3 linked regions of the Homo sapiens genome follow. The protein of the gene in region 1 purifies or fractionates together with the protein of each later gene. This does not show direct contact. Each region holds a gene or a part of one and is shown in the gene's direction. Other genes may lie near its edges.

What was found.
Region 2: the proteins of WDR91 (region 1) and CEP135 purify together in Homo sapiens (co-immunoprecipitation; one large-scale study listed by IntAct). This does not show direct contact.
Region 3: the proteins of WDR91 (region 1) and RAB8A purify together in Homo sapiens (co-immunoprecipitation; 2 studies listed by IntAct). This does not show direct contact.

What each region holds. Positions count from the first base shown.
Region 1 is NC_000007.14:135,183,339-135,187,676, reverse strand, and holds the end of WDR91 (WD repeat-containing protein 91), read left to right. Parts: intron 1-507; coding exon 508-705; intron 706-1,361; coding exon 1,362-1,526; 3' UTR 1,527-3,838; downstream 3,839-4,338.
Region 2 is NC_000004.12:55,951,823-55,955,472, forward strand, and holds part of CEP135 (centrosomal protein of 135 kDa), read left to right. Parts: intron 1-263; 5' UTR 264-308; coding exon 309-421; intron 422-568; exon of another isoform or gene 569-649; intron 650-1,262; coding exon 1,263-1,453; intron 1,454-2,393; coding exon 2,394-2,561; intron 2,562-3,650. UniProt on the Homo sapiens protein: Centrosomal microtubule-binding protein involved in centriole biogenesis. Acts as a scaffolding protein during early centriole biogenesis.
Region 3 is NC_000019.10:16,128,889-16,131,961, forward strand, and holds part of RAB8A (ras-related protein Rab-8A), read left to right. Parts: intron 1-665; coding exon 666-716; intron 717-3,073. UniProt on the Homo sapiens protein: The small GTPases Rab are key regulators of intracellular membrane trafficking, from the formation of transport vesicles to their fusion with membranes.

The sequences.
Region 1 (4,338 bases):
TGGCATCGCCCAGTGTTCAATTGATTATATGCCTGAAACACTGGAAATATATGTGGACTTTGTCCTCTGTACCTTGTTCCTAGGATAGAAAAATCTAGTTGGGGTCTAACTCTGATAATAATAATAATAATATGTCACTTGAAGCATTCCTCCTGCTTGAGAGACCAGGAATCCAGGCAAAGCCACTTGCTGTCCCTTTTCCTCTCCTAGGGTCAGGCCAGAGAGAAAGAGAAGGGTTGGACTTTAATGTGAGGTTGCTGCCTCTTTTTCTAGATTTTCTTCCCTAAAAAATGCTTAAATCATGTTGACCAGAGATAGGACCTGTAGACCTCTCACCCACTTTTCTGCCTCTGGCACTTGAAAGGCTTTTCAAGGATGTCAGCACTGTGGCTGGGGGAGGCGGGTCGCCCTCGCCAGCCTCTGCTGTGGGGTGGGTCCTGGCTCTTCCTTGAGGCCTGCATTGGCCAGCTCCGCTGCGAGCACCCTGCTTGTGCCCTGTGACTGCAGTTCATCCAGTGGAACATCCACAAGAGTGGCCTCAAGGTATCCGAGTACAGCCTCCCCTCAGATGCCACGGGCCCCTTTGTGCTGTCTGGATACAGCGGCTACAAGCAGGTTCAAGTCCCCAGGGGCCGACTCTTCGCTTTTGACTCGGAGGGAAATTACATGCTGACATGTTCTGCCACAGGCGGCGTCATCTACAAGGTAACTGATGGTTGGGGGTGGGAGGTAGTGGTATTGTGGTGGGCAGGGGTTCCTCCCTGGAGGTCTGGGCCATGGCTACTGAGCGAGGCCCTCTACCCCGAGCTGCATGGCTGTGGAGATGCCTTTGACAAAGGATCGCTGGCTAGCTAGTGCTGGGGTTCAGAGGAGAGCCATGTTTCTGCACTAACTGAAGGCTCCCCTGTGGCCAGCACTGTTCTGGGTGTGGCAGGCTGGCCCCCCGGCAGGAGAGAGCTGCCCGAGGCCCTGCTCTCCTGCAGCTTGCATTCCCCAGTATGGGACATGAACCTTCAACAAATAAGCAGATTCATGAGCACCTGCCAGGTAGTGAGAAGTGATGCTGTAGTGAGAACAACCAGTGTGCGTGCAAGAGGCACCAGCCCACAGCAAGTTCAAGGCAGCTGAGAAAATGCCTTTTTTTAAGGAGCCGCTCAGGGACTTGTTTTCCACTTCAGATGGACCAGCTGTAGTTGGGAAAGTGCAAGCATTTCCTGGTTCAAAAAGTTAAACAGACTTTCTGGAAAGGTGGGCATGTGTGTCTGGCCTCAGGCACATCCTCAGGTAGGCCACTGAAAGTGGATCAAGTGTGTGTAACTGGTGTTTGCTGACACCTCCTCCTCTTTCCTGTCCTCTTGCAGCTGGGTGGCGATGAGAAGGTTCTGGAGAGCTGCTTGAGCCTAGGTGGCCACCGAGCCCCTGTGGTCACCGTGGACTGGAGCACTGCCATGGACTGTGGGACCTGCCTCACCGCCTCCATGGATGGCAAGATCAAGCTGACCACCCTCCTGGCCCATAAAGCCTGATGACTTGCCCCAAGGGCCACCCGAGGAAGCAGTATTATCTGCGGTGGGGGGAGGAGATATAGGACAGGAAAACCACGTGCTCCACTCCAGCTCCCTGCCAGTGCAGTGACTCTGCAGGGAAAGACTGGCAAGGAGGCTCAGGTGCTTCCATCTGTGGTGACTGGAATGGGACCCACGTGGAGTAGGTGACATATGCTTCCCAGAGACTGGTATTGTGGCTGTGCCAGGAGTACATGTGAGACTATGGGAGGAAAGCTCCGGAAGAAGGAGAAACATTGCAGTGGCTACTGTGTTGGCCCAGTAGAAATTGACAGTATTTTGTATATATGTGCCCATTTATCTTTTTCTTTTTTAAAAAAAGAGAATACTCTTGTGGTCCCCTGATGTCTCTTTCTAGGATGTGTGTCACTTTGCTTCAGTGACAGCCCTCCCACCCAGCCTGGCTCTGCTGGCCCTGAACTGAACCTCTCCAGGCTCTCCTGTTGCTTTGCCATGGAGCCAGGTCAGCTCTCTGTCTGTTCTGCTGGGTAACAAGGTTTGGCAGTTCCTGTTTCTCTGGGCTTAAGTCAAGGCCACAGAATTCTTTTTCTTCCCTGAAAGCTGGCAGCTTTTGTTACAGAAGATTCTCAGGATGAAGGCAGGGGCTGAGGCCTCTGCTACTGGCTGCCCCTTTCCATCCAGTGGCTGCTGTTTCCCAAGACAGGCTAAGCGTTTCTTATCTGAAATGCTTGGGACAGGAGTGTTACAGATTTTGGATTTTTTCAGACTTTGGAATATTTGCATATATACATAATGAGGTATCTTGGTAGGTCTCATGTCTAAACATGAAATTCATTCATGTTTTATATATACCTTATACATGTAGCCTGAAGGTAACTCTATACAGTATTTTAAATAATTTTGTACATGAAACAAAGTATTGATTGTGGTCAGGTGTGGTATTTTCCACTTGTGGTGTCATGTTGGTGCTCACAGTTTTGGGGCTGGGCACGGTGGCTCACGTCTGTAATCCCAGCACTTTGGGAGGCCAAGGTGGGTGGATCACTTAAGGTCAGGAGCTTGAGACCAGCCTGGCCAACATGGTGAAACCCCATCTCTACTAAAAATACCAAAATTAGCCAGGCATGGTGGCAGGTGCCTATAATCCCAGCTACTCTGGAGGCTGGGGCAGGAGAATCACTTGAGCCCAGGAGGCGGAGGTTGCAGTGAGCCGAGATCACGCCACTGGGAGAACCCAACTCAAAAAAAAAAAAAGTTTTGGGTTATGGAGCATTTTTGATTTTGGATCTTTGGGTTAAGGACGCTCAACCTGTACCTTTTTCATTTGGTGGCTCCTCTCATTCCTCCAACTGAACATCTTTGTGGAAAGATGATGGCTGCCTGCACCCACTGCTGGCGAATGGTGAGAAGGTAGAGCAAGGGGGCCAAGTTGCTGCTGGTGGGCACCTGGGGTTCAGGCCGGCCCAACTGTGGCTGAGCCGATCTGTAGCTGAGCTGAGTGTCAACCAGCTGTGTCCACACCCTGCCTGAGGCCTGCCCTCTCCTCCCTGGCTGGGGTGGGACCTTGAAGAGGCATATCTTCCCACTAGGTGAGGAGGAACAAGAGCCTCACTCCCCTTCTCCCTCTTGCCTTTCACAGCTGAGGCAGAGCTTATGGGAGGAGTCACTATGGGAGTGATGGACCTGGGCTTTGGTCTCCAGTGTTTGGCAGGGGCGACCTTATCACTGAGCTGGGGAAGGCAGCTGCCATGAGTCATTTTAAGTCTCTGAGCTCCAGCCCAGTTCTAGGGGCACAAGGCTGGAGTAGGGATACTCCTAGTTACCTGCTTGAGGAAAAGCACGAAGAAATTGGTACCAAAGTCTTGGCTTTGTTCTGGGAGTTGAGGGAAAAGTAGGGAGGTATTTAAGTGGCTTGATTATGAGAAAACACCAGAGACAGTAGTAAATAGTTATTTACCGATTTTTACCCATTTCTACCCTGGTAATCCTCCCTGCAAATGAAGAAAACCAAGACTTCTTTATTTATTATCTTTCCCCATCTGTATTGAAACAGTGATCTTACTTATCTCACCCAGTGATTCTGTAGGACATTTAAAAAGTGGTCATGGGTTTCATTGGAGTGAGAATGGTATTAACGTTTCCTCTTGTCATCTCAAAGTTTTCTCTCCCCTTAATACCATCTCTACAGCTTGCTGAGATGCTTTAAGGATCACAGAGACACAAAGAAAATTTGAACCCTACGCTTCTCCCATCCCACTTCTTACTCCATCCCGGGTGAGCGCTCGTCCTCAAATAAAGCATGTTGGAACTTCCGCTTATCTCTCCTTCCATAGACCTGCTTGGCGTCTGCTTAAGAACCCAAGCAAGACTCTTCCATTCTCTTGGTTGAGGGTGGCATAGAAGAAAACCTCTTTCCCAGTCCCAGCCTCAGTTCCCAGCCCAGGTGTGGACCCTCAGCTCTGGGGAGGGCTGCACCGAGAGCCTTGCAGGTGCACTTCCCCATTTCCTCCCTCTCTTCAGATACCTGCCGGTATTTGCCTCTTCTGCTCCATGGCCTCAGGCCTTGGCTGTGTTCTGCGAGTTGAGGGAAGCATTTGAATGGGGAGGGCCTCATAGCCAGTCCCCATTTAAATGCTTTAGGAGTTCAATGTAATCTTTTGAAGTATGTATACATTGTGGAATACAGACAATGTAGAATGATTAAATCTAGCTAACTGACACGTGCATTACCTCACATGATAAACAGCAGTTTAGCTGTCAGTTAAAAAAAATCCCCCAAACCCCCAAATGCTTTGGGTGCTGACTCTAATCT
Region 2 (3,650 bases), on another chromosome or scaffold:
CTTCAGGCTTAGGAAAAATCTTTGTTTTCTCCTAGAAGCTTTAGGATTTTAACTTTTACATTTAGTTGTATGAGGAAGTATTTATTTTAATGCAGTAACAGGAATATCATAAGCATTGGCTTTAAATCTGAATTTTCCAGAAGGCTACCTACCTGAAGAAAAACAAAAAATAATTGCTTCATATTAAAATAATTTTTTCTTCTTATTGTGAAACAACAATCATAGCTATAATAAGATAATGATGTTTCATTCTTTTCTCTCAGGACTTTAATTTTTGGAAGTGAATAAAACTTGTTTTAGAAGACGAGATGACTACAGCTGTAGAGAGAAAGTATATTAATATTAGGAAAAGGCTGGATCAGCTGGGATACCGCCAGACTCTGACAGTGGAGTGTTTACCTTTGGTAGAAAAACTTTTCAGGTAAAGACAAAAATACAGTTTTCAACCTTTATGATCCCTAACCACTTACCTCATTTCTGATTGAACTTCATGCTTTGGTAAAGAAAAGGGTAGCTTTCCGGAAAGGCTTTCAATCATGAAGCTTATCTGTTTTTTCCCTGTCCTCAATCCAGGCCTTCCACACGGCAGAACTCTAAAGGCCACCACTCACGCTGTACTGTTCAAAGTCAACATTTCTGGGGGTTTTCTCTGTGAATGGAATTACAGTTTTTTGGGTTTCTGATATAATTGAGAGACACTTTTCCCTTAAGTTCTTTTTTTTTCCCCCCCTTAAGTTCTATGTCTGCTTCACTGGTCTTCAAATACAGTCATGGATAGTTTCATGACAGGGATACGTTCTGAGAAACATGTCATCATTAGGTGATTTTTTCGTTGTACCAACATCATAGGGTGTGCTTACACAAACCTAGATGGTGTCGCCTACCACAAACCTAGGCTATATGGTCTGTATCCTATGGCTCCTAGGCTACAAACCTGTATAGCATGTTACTATACTGAATACTGTAGGTAATTGTTAACACAGTGGTGCCTATTTGTATATCTGAACATATCTAAACATAGAAAAGGTATTGTGTTGTGCTACAGTGTTACAATGGCCAGATCTCATGAGGCAATAGGAATTTTTCAGCTGCCCCCATTATAAATCTTACAGGACTACTCTCCTTCCTATATGTGGTCTGTCGTTGACCAAAATGTCATCATGTGGTGCATGACTGTATTTTAAGCCTCTTTAGAAATATGTTTTTAGTTATTAGAAAGTTAATGAAATATTTCCTGGTATTTAAATTTTCTGTTCTTTTAGCGACTTAGTTCATACAACTGAGAGCCTTCGGCAATCAAAATTATCTGCTGTGAAAGCTGAAAAAGAAAGTGCCAATTTTGATTTTGTTTTGGAACCCTATAAACTTGAAAATGCAAGATTGAGTAGAGAAAATAATGAATTATACCTAGAGTTAATGAAACTGAGAGAACATTCAGACCAACACGTTAAAGGTAAGTGAAAATTTGATAATTTTTAAAATGCAATGTCTTTGTCCTTTTTATTTTAGAAGGAAAAGCTAACGTCTAATTTTAAAACTATTGATTAGAAAATATAGTAGTCCTACAGCTGGATGGTGTGTGCCTATAGTCCCAGCTACTCGGGAGTTTAAGGTGGGAGGATTGCTTGAGCCCAGGAGTTTGAGACCAGCCTAGGCAACATAGTGAGAACTTGTTTCAAAAAAAAAGAAAAGAAAAGAAAATATGGTACTCCTTCTGCTAATAGCCCCTGAAATACTATAGGGTATGTTGAAGAGTTCCTGAGAAGGAAAATAAATGTGCATTATATAGCTATGATAATCACTATATGTGGATTAAATTTTTAGAATTAAAAATTTAATTAAAATTTTAGAATTAAAATTGCCATAGGGAATATTAAATGCTGGATTTGAAGAAATGTTCTTGAAACAACTTTTGTTTTTCCCTTACTGAAAATAAAAGTAGTAAATAAGGTGAAAACCATGTATCATGCTGACTGTTTTATAGTCAGTCTTTGAGCTGTCAAGTAGAATAGGATGATTTCAAAGGTACTAGGGAAAAGATAATTATATGGTTATCTTTGTATGAATTATTCTTATATTCAGTAGAAAACTTTATCTAATCCATGGTATGAATTCATAATCCTTTAGCTTCAGACCCAATTTACTGGATCAAAAGCTATGATGTACGTTAGGCTAATACAGTAGCTGAAAAATGAAGATTCTCTTTTGTGCTTAGTGAGTTATTTGCAGTTTTGTTAATAATAGTAGAAGAAGGAATAAGTGTCAACTAAAGCATGCATAAGAAGCAGGTGGAGACTTTTAAATTGATATGACTTTTTGTATTTTGTGAAATGGAAAAACTTCATTGGATTTCTTGATCTTTAAAACGGTCTTTGAATCTTTTTCATTTTAAGAGTTGAAAACTTCATTGAAGAAATGTGCACGTGAAACAGCTGATCTGAAATTTCTGAATAACCAATATGCTCATAAACTCAAACTGTTGGAGAAAGAGAGCAAAGCTAAGAATGAAAGAATTCAACAACTTCAAGAAAAGAATTTGCATGCTGTAGTACAAACTCCAGGTAAATCGATTCCTTCTCGAGACAAATTATACACATTTAATCTTTTAACGATATTAACACCATTGACTAAAATAGGACTTTGGATTGGATTTTCATGCTTAGACTTTAGTGTTTGAAAATATATATTGAATAGACCGTAAACTTCTTGATTTATTTCTAATGATCCGGGTAGTAATTTATACGTGTGCTTAGAAATGTATGTAGTATTAGTTACTTAGATACTAGTCTAACTTTAATGCCCAGAGCTTTCTCTAATCAATATTTTAAATTCTTTTTTCTATTATTATTATCATTATTATTTTAGTTGTAAAAGTAATCCATACTCATTAAAGAATTTGGAAATTATGTACTTTCTTAGTTTATTTTACTATTTTTAGCATTATGCTTAGTAGTTATAGAGCAAGAAAAGGAAATGATGGGTCCAGGTGCAGTGGCTCACACCTGTAATCCCACCACTTTGGGAGGCTGAAGTGGGCAGATCATTTGAGGCCGCTTCAAGACCTGTGTGGGAACGTGATGAAACCCCACCTCTACCAAAAATACAAAAATTAGCTGGGCATGGTGGCGCAAGCCTATAGTTCCAGCTACTTGGGAGGCTGAGGTGGGAGGATTGCTTGAGCCTGGGAGGCGGAGGTTGCAGTGAGCTGAGATTGCACCACTGCACTCCAGCTTGGGTGATAGAGTGAGACCCTGTCTCAAAAAAAAAAAAAGAAATGATGGGCCACATCCAGAGTTGGTGATTGTTCAGCAGGTATGGGTTGGTGGTAGAATCTACAATATTAGTGACAAAATCATTAAGATAGCTGAACCATGGGATCAAGATTATGAAATTAAGTGAGTAACAGGGGGCTGCTGGATTATGAGGCTAGGTCAAGACAGATTAAAGAGCATGATGAGTACCAAAAGTAATTTGTTTGCTATGAAGATTGCAGTCAGAGTGGAATTTTGGAGTTGAAGAACTAGAAGCCAGCAGAGTTCTGAGTGATGACAAAGGCCAAAGTGTATCATCTTATTGTGTGCCTGAAGTTGAGGGGAGAGGAGACTCCTGAGAGTGGACAGATTAGAACTGTGAAGCCAGGTGGGGGAAGA
Region 3 (3,073 bases), on another chromosome or scaffold:
CTCTCCTCTCCAGAACCTCCCACATCATGGGGATGTATGTTGGGATCACGCCTCCCGCCATCTCTGTATGTCCCCTCCTCAAGGCTGTGACAGCAGCTCAACCCTTGGCTGTGCTGGGAGATGAACCTGCTCCCGCTCCCAGCCCTGCCAGGCAAGGACTCCGAGTGAAGCTTGTTTGGCCACAGAGCTGCTTGCCTTTTTCCCTGACCATCAGAAGGGAGGCCAGAGCTGACAGAACCTAGGAGTCAGAGACAAAGAACTGGGCACTCCTAGATCCTTCTGGATTGGTCGGTTAACTGCTGGGTTCCTTTGGACAAGTCACTTGGCCTCTCTGAGCCTCAGTTTCCTCTCTGGCCAACTGAGTGTCGCCCCATCTCACAGGGCTTAGGGGAGGTGGCACATGCGTAAAGTCCCGTCAATGCTAAGGTGCTCTGCGGAAGTGAGAGTTGATGTCAGAGAGTAAGGGTGGGTGGGAGGCAGAGGGAGCCGGGGAAGGATGAGCTGGGGCCGGACAGGCCAGATGAACCCACTGCCAGAGGCGGGCATCAAAGGGCCAAATGGGAGGCCCACGCCTGGGAAGCTGTCTCACCACACCCGCTGTACACGGGCGGCTGAGGACTCAGGGTCCTGCCATCCCAAGGACTCACAATGTGCTTATTCCACAGGCATTTTTCACTCTCGCCAGAGATATCAAAGCAAAAATGGACAAAAAATTGGTGAGTGTGTGTCCTTCCGAGATCCCCGGGTGGATCTCTGGGATCCAGCCATCGTCGTTAGCAGCAGTGATATGACGTGCCCTAGATCCTGCTTTTTAGGGCCCAGCCAGACCCCATGGGACATTGCTGGGAAAGGGGGAAGAGTTTGCAGGTGTGGCTGGGGCATCAGCATCAGGCAGTGCCAGCCTGGGGACGCTGCCCAAGCAGACAAGGCCGTGCCCGGTGAATCCCCAGGCTAGCAGGGAGCACACGGCCTTTTCCATTCCACTCAAGGGCCAGAAAGACAACATGGTGTGCAAGGACAGAGAGCCATGGCTCGGAGAAAAGCTTCCTAGGTCGCTTGGGCAGGGCCAGGGCTGGTGTCTGATAACTGCTGGCTCATCGTCTTGACAAGCATGGCAGATCAAGAACCTGCCCCCGCTCCACCCCAGCCCCAGATGCTACAAGTTGTGACAGCTCTGCAACCTTCATTGTGTCCCAGGGTTCTCTGAGGCCTCCAGGGAAGTCTGCATGAATCCCTACCCATCTACCCTCTCATTCGTTTCTTGCTTTTTTTTTTTTACCACGTTAGCGATTTCCTAGTCCGCTGCGCTCAGTATCAATGGTGCTTTCTTGATGGAATCAAACACTTCCCTGTACTTTGGGGGCATTTAGTGCCTAAACACCGTAGTGACCCTTCCTCCCTCGCCCTGGTTCCAGCAACTGCCCTTTCCCGGCCATGTTACATTGGTTGTCCAATCGAGGAGCACACGGCGCTCTATTTGTGGGTTAAGTCTGGTCACTTGAGAATGCACATAAAATACAAAATGCCGTTCAAGTTTTACATCTGATGTAAGCAAATCTGTTTTGTAATTCTAAGATGCGGTGTGTTGAACAGTGAGGCATGTGATTGATTTAATAGCAGCTCTTTGGCCATTAAATTAAAATGGGAAACAGTTCATGGAAACCAGTGCACTGACCAACAATAATTTGGGATTTTCTTGCAATTTTTTTTCTTCAGTATAATGGTCAAGGTCTGATTCTTTTTTCTTTTAGTTTTCTTATTAGTTAAAAAAGAGATTTTTTTTTTAGAGTCTCACTTTGCCACCTAGGCTGGAGTGCAGTGGCACCATCACAGCTCACTGCAGCCTTCAACTCCTGGGCTCAAGCAATCCTCCCACCTCCGCCTCCCAAGTAGCTGGGGCTATAAGCACACACCACCATGCCTGGCTAATTTTTTTTCTTTTTCTTTTTTTTTGAGAAGGAGTCTCGCTCTGTTGCCCAGGCTAGAGTGCAATGGTGCAATCCCTGCTCACTGCAACCTCTGCCTCCCAGGTTCAAGCGGTTCTTCTGACTCAACCTCCCGAGTACTTGGGATTACAGGCACATGTCACCACGCCCAGCTAATTTTTGTATTTTTAGTAGAGACGAGGCTTCACCATGTTGGTCAGGCTGGTCTTGAACTCCTGACCTCAGGTGATCCACCTGCCTCGGCCTCCCAAAGTGTTGGGATTACAGGTGTGGGCCACCCCGCCTGGCCATTTTTTCTTTTTTAAGAGGCAGGATCTCACTTGTTACCCAGGCTGGACTCAAACTCCTGGGCTCAAGCAGTTCTTCTGCCTCAGCCTCCCAAAGTGCTGGGAAGGGTATGATGGGGTGGGCAGATAAGTGAGAGAGTGGTTGGAAGGGGTGGTATATAGCAGATGGAAAATAGATCTGTTTCTGAAAAACGAATTATCAGTTGTAAGAGAATTGGATGGATGGGTAGAAGATAATGGATGGATGGTTGGTTGAAAGGGAATAAATCGATGGTTGATTTGTTGGAAGGAGATGGTTGGATAGATAGATGATTGGTTTGTTGGTTGGTTGGAAGGGGATGGATGAATGGTTGGTTGGAAGGAGGTGGTTGCTTGGAAGGGGATGGATGGATGGTTGATTGGTCAGAAGGGGTGGTTAGAAGGAGATGGTTAGTTGGAAGAGGGTGGATGGGGGGAAGGAGATGGATGGGTGGATGGATGGTTGGAAAGGGATGGATGGATGGTTGGTTGGATGAGGTGGTTAGAAGGGGATGGATGGTTGGTTGGTTGGTTGGAAGGGGATGGATGGTTGGAAGAAGATGGATGGTTGGAAAGGGATGGATGAGTGGATGGTTCTTGGTTGGAAGGGATGGATGGTTGGTTGATTGGTTTGTTGGTTGGAAGCAGGTGGATAGACGGATGGAAGGGAATGGGTGAGTGGATGGATGGATGGTTGAAAGGGTATAGATGGATGGTTGGTTGGTTGGTTGGTTGGTTGGTTGGTTGGTTGGTTGGTTGGATGGTTGGAAGGGGACAGCTGGACGGACTGGCAGATGATGGATGGATGGTTTGATGGCTGAT